Linked DNA regions of Homo sapiens. The protein of the gene in region 2 purifies or fractionates together with the protein of the main gene of each other region. This does not show direct contact. Each region holds a gene or a part of one and is shown on either strand. Other genes may lie near its edges.

What was found.
Region 1: the proteins of ATG9B (region 2) and GTF2IRD1 purify together in Homo sapiens (affinity purification with mass spectrometry; one large-scale study listed by BioGRID and IntAct). This does not show direct contact.

The regions. Positions count from the first base shown.
Region 1 is NC_000007.14:74,456,826-74,460,630, forward strand, and holds part of GTF2IRD1 (general transcription factor II-I repeat domain-containing protein 1), read left to right. Parts: intron 1-3,805. UniProt on the Homo sapiens protein: May be a transcription regulator involved in cell-cycle progression and skeletal muscle differentiation. May repress GTF2I transcriptional functions, by preventing its nuclear residency, or by inhibiting its transcriptional activation.
Region 2 is NC_000007.14:151,017,839-151,021,565, reverse strand, and holds part of ATG9B (autophagy-related protein 9B), read left to right. Parts: intron 1-236; coding exon 237-378; intron 379-2,191; coding exon 2,192-2,946; intron 2,947-3,118; coding exon 3,119-3,272; intron 3,273-3,515; coding exon 3,516-3,695; intron 3,696-3,727. UniProt on the Homo sapiens protein: Phospholipid scramblase involved in autophagy by mediating autophagosomal membrane expansion. Cycles between the preautophagosomal structure/phagophore assembly site (PAS) and the cytoplasmic vesicle pool and supplies membrane for the growing autophagosome.

The DNA.
Region 1 (3,805 bases), about 77 Mb from region 2:
TTTATTAGCCCTGCCTGGCTAGGGTAGGGGGTCAGGATTATAGAATTTGCCTCTTTTCCTCTCCTTCAGGACTTGGCTTGGCTGTGGTATCTTTGGGCTGAAGACTTCCTCGTCCTCAGGGCTGGCCATGGTTCCACCTTTATATCCCCATGATGTCCTCTCTTTTTTTTCTTTTTTTCTTTTTTTGAGACAGTCTTGCTCTGTGCCCAGGCTGGGGTGCAGTAGTGTGATCACAGCTCACTGCAGCCTCGAACTCCTGGACTCAAGCCACCCTCCCACCCCAGCCTCACAAGTAGCTGGGACCGCAGACAAGGGCCACTACACCTGGTTAATTTTTTATTGTTTGTAGAGATGGGGTCTTGCTATGTTGCCCAGGCTGGTTTCGAACTCCTGGGCATGAGGAGTCCTCCCACCTTGGCCTCTCAAAGTGCTGGGATGACAGGAGTGAACCACCGCGCCTAGCCAACATCCTTTCCTTCCTTTGTCCCAACATTGATCTTACTCAGATGTTTACATCTCTCTCCCCAATTGCACTAGGGACAGGAAGGGATGGAGGCTTGCTCCTCAAATACTTGTTAAATGGCTACATGTTTGAATGAATGAATGAATGAAATCCTGCTCTTGAGCCTTGACCTAAATGGCTAAGCAGACTCTCTCCTATTTTTCTTAAATGCTCATCTCTGGGGCAAGTTCCCCACCCTGGTAGGAGTCCCAGGGTCTCTCCCTGAACTTCCTGGGGCCCCCTCTCTCCCCACTACCCCAGCCTGTGTCTTCTCCCAACCTTAACCCTGGGGGCTTTGCTCCCCAATGTCATCCTCTCTGTATCTCTCAGTTCTCTGACTCTCGCCGTTTGTAAGTATCTCTCTCTCAGATGCGTGGCAGCCAGGGTCACAGCCAGGTTCTTTGGGACAAGCCAGGGGTGTATGCCCAGCTCCATGGGGCCTGCAGAGGCTTCAGGGGACACCCATGGAAGAAGACCTGCAGGGCCAATTTATAAACAGAGGAGCAGAGCAGGACCCAGGGCTTGGAATCCATGCTGAGTTACGTTTTTGTTTTTTTTTTTTTTTTTTTGAGAGGGAGTCTCACTTTGTCGCCCAGGCTGGCATGCAGTGGCGCCATCTCGGCTCACTGCAACCTCTGCCTCCTGGGTTCAAGCGATTCTCCTGCCTCAAGTAGCCGGGATTACAGGCATGCTCTACCACGCCCGGCTAATTTTTGTATTTTTAGTAGAGATGGGGTTTCATCATGTTGGCCAGTCTGGTCTAGAACTCCTGACCTCAAGTGATCTGCCCGCCTCTGCCTCCCAAAGTGCTGGGATTGCAGGCATGAGACACTGCGCCCGGTCCTGAGTTCAGTTTTGATTGGGGGGCTTCCGGGATAATATGGGGCCGCTAGGACAGGGACCCTTAGTGTGACTGGAAGGGAATTTCCTGAAGGAATTCATAGCAGAGGTGGAGTGGTGGGAAGGATGGTTTCTGGGGGAGAAGGAGATGCGTGAACCTGGCCAGAAGACAGTGTGTTGTGACAGATGATTGCTGGTGAGGGGGTAACAGTCTCCAAGGTGTAGATGTTGGGGGCTCCAGATACGGCAGGAGGGGCCTGGCCTCTCGGAATCCCCTCAGCCCCATCTCATAGAAACATGTGCTTTCTACCCAGGCTCCATACTCCGGAAGGGAGGCAGGACCCTGTCACTTTCTTGGCCTACTTTGGAAGTTCTCAGTCAGGTATCTCCAGGTGTGGCAGAGGGGCTTTGGCCTGTAGGGGGTGTGGTAATGTGGGTTTTGGAGGCAGAAAGCTTTTCAGGAAAGCCCCCTGGTCCATCACCCCCCTTTCTTTTTTTTTTTTTTGAGATGGAGTCTTGCTTTGTTGCCCACGCTGGAGTGCAGTGGCACGATCCCAACTCACTGCAACTTCCACCTCCCGGGTTCAAGTGATTCTCGTGCCTCAGCCTCCCGAGTAGCTGGGATTACAGATGTACACCACCACACCTGGCTAATTTTTGTATTTTTAGTAGAGACGGGGTTTCACCATGTTCGCCAGGCTGGTCTTGAATGAACCCCTGACCTCAAGTGATTGGCCCTCCTTGGCCTCCCAAAGTGCTGGGATTACAGGTGTGAGCCCCCAGGCCCGGCCTCATCATCACTTCTTCACCCACCCTATTTTGGTAGCTCTCTCTCCACTCGTCCTGTGGAACTGATCCATTCTCGGTCCCATTCCCTTCTCTCTGGGCCAATCTGCACCTAGGTTTGTGGCTTCATGAGTATGGAGGGTCGTGCAGAAAGGGGCCAGGTCTGTAGGAACCTGGGTTCATGCCCTGGAAATTTGCCCATTTAAGATAAGTTAGGGCCGGGTGCGGTGGCTCATGCCTGTAATCCCCAGCACTTTGCACTTCGGGAGACCGAGGCGGGCGGATCACCTGAGGTCAGGAGTTTGACTAGCCTGGCCAACACGGTGAAACCCCATCTCTACTAAAAATACAAAAATTAGCCAGGCGTAGTGGCGGGCGCCTGTAATCCCAACTGCTCGGGAGGCTGAGGCAAGAGAATTGCTTGAACCTAAGAGGTGAAGGTTGCCGTGAGCTGAGATCGTACCATTGCACTCCAGCCTGGGCGACAAGAGTGAAACTCTGTCTCAAAAAAAAAAAGATAAGATAGGTGTCCTGAATAAGATAGGTGAAATGGGTGAGGATGTACTTTATCTTACACGGTCTTAGGGAGTGTCTCAGGCGGTGAACAGAACTCTCTCGCCCCTGAGCTGGGGCCTGGCTGACCCAGAGCTATTTGTGTGCCCACCTGTCACCCTCTTTCAGGACCACCTGCTTCAGGTTGCCAGATTTAGCAAATAAAAATAAGGATGCCCAGCTAAAATTGGATTTCAGACAAGCAAGGACTAATGCAATATTTGGGATGAACTTCTAGCTAAAAGTTACCTGTTGTTGATCTGTAGTTCAGACTGAACTGGAGGTCTTGCATTTTATCTGCCAACCCTACAACTGCTGCCTCTGGGGCGGTGAGATGGATGGGGTTTGGGGAGGGGCCAGAGGTGTGTGTGGCTGACCCTGGAGTTGGGATCAGGGCTCAGTGGAGGCCCCGGGGATGATCTGGAGCGAGTTTGAATCGAGTGGAGCTGATTCACTGAATCTTGGCTTTTTTTTTTTTAATTTGTATTGAAATGAGGTCTCACTCTGTCACCCAGGCTGGAGTGCAGTGGCACAATCTCGGCTCACTGCAGCTTCTCCCTCCCCGGCTCAAGCGATCCTTCTGGCTCAGTCTCCCAAGTAGGTGGGACCACAGGCACACGCCACCGTGCCCGGCTAATTTTTTGTATTTTTGGTGGAGATGGGGTTTCGCCATGTTGCCCAGTTCCTGAGTTCAAGTGATCTCAAAGTGCTGGAATTACAGAAGTGAGCCACTGTACCCAGCCAGCAGGGTCCTTTTTCATTTTTATTTTATTCTATTTTTTGAGACAGTGTCTCACTCTGTTTCCCAGGCTGGAGTGCAGTGGCGTGATCCTACCTCACTGCAACCTCCAACTCCTGGGCTCAATGTGATCCTCCCACCTCAGCCTCTGCACCTAGCTAATTAAAAAAAAATTTTTTTTTTTTAGAGATGGGGTCTTGCGATGTTGCCCAGGCTGGTCTCAAGCTCCTGGCCTCAAGCGATCCTCCCACCTCAGCTTCCCAAAGTGCTGGGATTACAGGCAGTATCCTTCTAATGTCCTTGGTCGGGCCTCCTCCAGCCTGTGGCTCGAGGGTCTAGATCTCCTACTGGCCTGGGTGGCATGGAGGGTGTAGTCTAGGTGGCCT
Region 2 (3,727 bases):
TCAGAGTACAAGAATGAAAACATCAGAAAGCATTAGTATTATTTGGAAAAAGTTTGACTTTGCACATTTGTGAAGGCCACTTCAGCACCCACCCCCTGCCCCGGGCTCTACCTTGAGAGCTGCTGGTCTAGCTAGATCCCCCTCCTCATGATGGTTTTTCCTCACTCCCGAAGTCTGGTCTGCCTCTTTCTCAGGCGCCCACCTTTCTCCCCCACTGCCCGCCCAACCCCATACAGGATCCGCTCCAGCCCGCTGCTGGTCCTCCTCCTGGTCCTGGCTGCCGGCTTCTGGCTGGTCCAACTGCTTCGCTCAGTCTGCAACCTCTTCAGCTACTGGGACATCCAGGTGTTTTACAGGGAGGCCCTGCACATCCCCCCGGTGAGCTGGGTGGCTGTGTCTGTGCAGAGGGTGCCGTGAGAGGGTGGGCAGAGGAGAGGGGAAGAAGTGGGACTGTACAGGTGGAAGGGCCAACTGGAAAGAGGGCAGAAAGAGCGAGGTCTTATTGACACCTGCCCTAGGCCCAGAATAATGTCAGGAGGGGGCTACCACCACCTAGAGAGCATGGCCCTTACCCTAAGGGAGTTTAGTTTATTTAGATGGCTCATATAAGATGACATATAGTTACATGTTTGTGCTAAAAACATTGATTAGAGAAAAGAGAAAGGGCAGTTATCTGGCTTTTCAGAGCTGGAGGAATTTGGGTTGGGCTTCGGAAGGGCAGGACAGGAGGGGAGGGGAGCACATTCTAAGCCCCAGTGCAGGAAGGTGGGGAAAAGCCATGAGCTTTTGGAAGCTGCAGTGAGGAGATGGACCCATCAGCCTAAAACAGAGCCTTCAAAGCCATCCCCCGCATTGCAGGAAGCCACTGCATTGGCCTGTCACTGTCCACTGCTTATGCTCTGCCCTTTGTTTCCTCACCATCTTGAGTCTGCTCCTCCCTCCTCTGTATCTAAGTTCTTTCTTTGAGGCACAGCTTGAAAGTAGCCTTCTGCAGCTTGCTTCCCTTGCTCCCCTGGGAGGTCCGGAGCCCTCTGCACAGCCTTTATGTGCAGCAAGGGGAGAGGTCTTAGAAGGCCCCTGAGCAGAGGAGAGGGAGGAGGCCGGGGAAGCAGAGGTGGTGAGAGCGGAAGCTGGACCTCGGATTGGCTCTGGCGGGAGACTGCTCACCCGTCTCGTTCTCCTCCTCCCTTCTTTCCCCTCCTCCCCTGTTCCTTCCAGGGGAAGGGAAGGGAAGACACTGGGATGTACTGGAGAGGCCAGCCTGGGGGACTTGACTAACCTGGACTGGGAAAGCTGAGTGAAACTGGGCTGAAGTGAGGTTTGCAGCCTTCAAATGAGATCTGACAGTGCCCCACTGCCAGATGTGGACATAGCCCAGGTCCTGGGAAGGCTTCTGGTGACAGAGCCGAAGATGGCCTGGAGTCGGGTGGGGCTGGGAGTGTAAAGCATGCCCAGGCAGAAGGTGGGGAGGATTCTGTTCCAGAGTTGGTGGGTGCACTAGAAATGGGAAGGAGAGATTCTCCCACGAACTGCCAGACATTCTGGTTTTTTGTTTTTTTGTTTGTTTTGTTTCTTTTGAGACAGGGTCTGGGTCTTTCACCCAGGCTGGAGTGCAGTGCTGTGATATTGGCTCACTGCAGCCTCTGCTCCCCAGTAGCTGCAACCACAGGTGCACACCACCACGCCCTGCTATTTTTTGTATTTTTAGTAGAGACAGTGTCTCACCATGTTGCCCAGGCTGGTCTCGAGCTCCTAAGCTCAGACGATCTGCCTGCCTCAGCCTCCCAAAGTGCTGGGATTACAGGTGTGAGCCACCGCCCCTGGCCAGCCAGTCTGTTTTGTGTGTACAACTGAGGGGGCCTCAGGCCCTTAAGGAGCTGAGAAGCCAGGTCCAGCACCTGGAGGCGTCCCCAGGAAGTGCATGACTACTGGCCACATGAATGGCAGGGATGATGAACAGGGCAGTTTAGAAGAGGATGAAGGAAGTAGGGCGCGCCCTTGTTAGTGACAGGGTTAAGGGAGGGCAGAAAGAGAAAGGTGGGAGAGGGGGACGATGTAGCTTGGTCATGGCGAGTTTGTGATCGCAAACTCAGTTTGCGGGTTTTCAGGCCGCACACTTAGGGGTGTGGAGCTTGAGCATCACTGTGGAGAGGAATGGGGGGTCGCTGGCTCTCATCAGTGCCCCTTTCAGGAGGAGCTGAGCTCGGTTCCCTGGGCAGAGGTGCAGTCCCGCCTCTTGGCACTGCAGCGGAGCGGGGGCCTGTGCGTGCAGCCGCGGCCCCTGACGGAGCTGGACATCCACCACCGCATCCTGCGCTACACCAACTACCAGGTGGCGCTGGCCAACAAAGGCCTGCTGCCGGCCCGCTGCCCGCTGCCCTGGGGAGGCAGTGCGGCTTTCCTCAGCCGCGGCCTGGCGCTCAATGTCGACCTGCTGCTCTTCCGCGGTCCCTTCTCGCTCTTCCGCGGGGGCTGGGAGCTGCCGCACGCCTACAAGCGCAGCGACCAGCGGGGCGCCCTAGCAGCGCGCTGGGGGCGCACAGTGCTGCTGCTGGCCGCCCTGAACCTGGCGCTGAGCCCGCTGGTGCTGGCCTGGCAGGTTCTGCACGTCTTCTATAGCCACGTGGAGCTGCTGCGGCGCGAGCCTGGCGCGCTGGGGGCGCGCGGCTGGTCCCGCCTGGCGCGCTTGCAGCTGCGCCACTTCAACGAGCTGCCGCACGAGCTGCGCGCGCGCCTGGCCCGCGCCTACCGCCCCGCCGCCGCCTTCCTGCGCACCGCTGCGCCCCCCGCGCCCCTGCGCACGCTGCTGGCCCGCCAGCTCGTTTTCTTCGCGGGTGCACTCTTCGCCGCGCTGCTTGTGCTCACCGTCTACGACGAGGACGTGCTAGCCGTGGAGCACGTGCTCACCGCCATGACCGCGCTCGGGGTCACCGCCACCGTCGCCAGGTGCGACGGCAGATGCCCGGGGTGGTGGTGTGTGTTGGTTTCTCTGATCTGGGGCCATGTGAGGTTCCCCCCGAATCCTTACCTCTCCCACCACTGGGGCCCTCTAGCCCTACATCCCACCGCGCGTCCTCCTAATCGCAGGCCCCTTCCCCCCACGGATCCCGCCTTTCAGGTCTTTCATTCCGGAAGAGCAGTGCCAGGGTCGTGCGCCGCAGCTCCTGCTGCAGACAGCCCTGGCCCACATGCACTACCTCCCGGAGGAGCCCGGCCCCGGCGGCAGGGACCGCGCCTACCGGCAGATGGCGCAGCTGCTGCAGTACCGAGCGGTGAGGGTGGGCGCGACGGCGGGCTGAGGAGGAAGTTGTGGGGTCTGTCTGCGCGGAGGGTCTGTCTGCGCGGAGGGTCTGTCTGGGAGAGGGCATGAGACAAACGGACTATACCAGGAGTCTAGGGAGTGACTGGGTGGGGAGGCTTCTTGCCCTGGCGAGGGTCGCTGGGGACTGCTTGGTCCTGATAACGCGCGTGGGCCCCTCAGCGACCCCTGCTCAGCCTCACCGCTGCTTCCCCAGGTCTCCCTCCTGGAGGAGCTCCTGTCCCCGCTCCTCACCCCGCTGTTTCTGCTTTTCTGGTTCCGCCCTCGTGCCCTGGAGATTATCGACTTTTTTCATCACTTCACTGTGGATGTGGCTGGGGTTGGGGACATCTGTTCCTTTGCCCTTATGGATGTGAAGCGCCACGGACACCCTCAGGTCAGAGCCGTTCCCTGGCCCTGGGGGTTTGG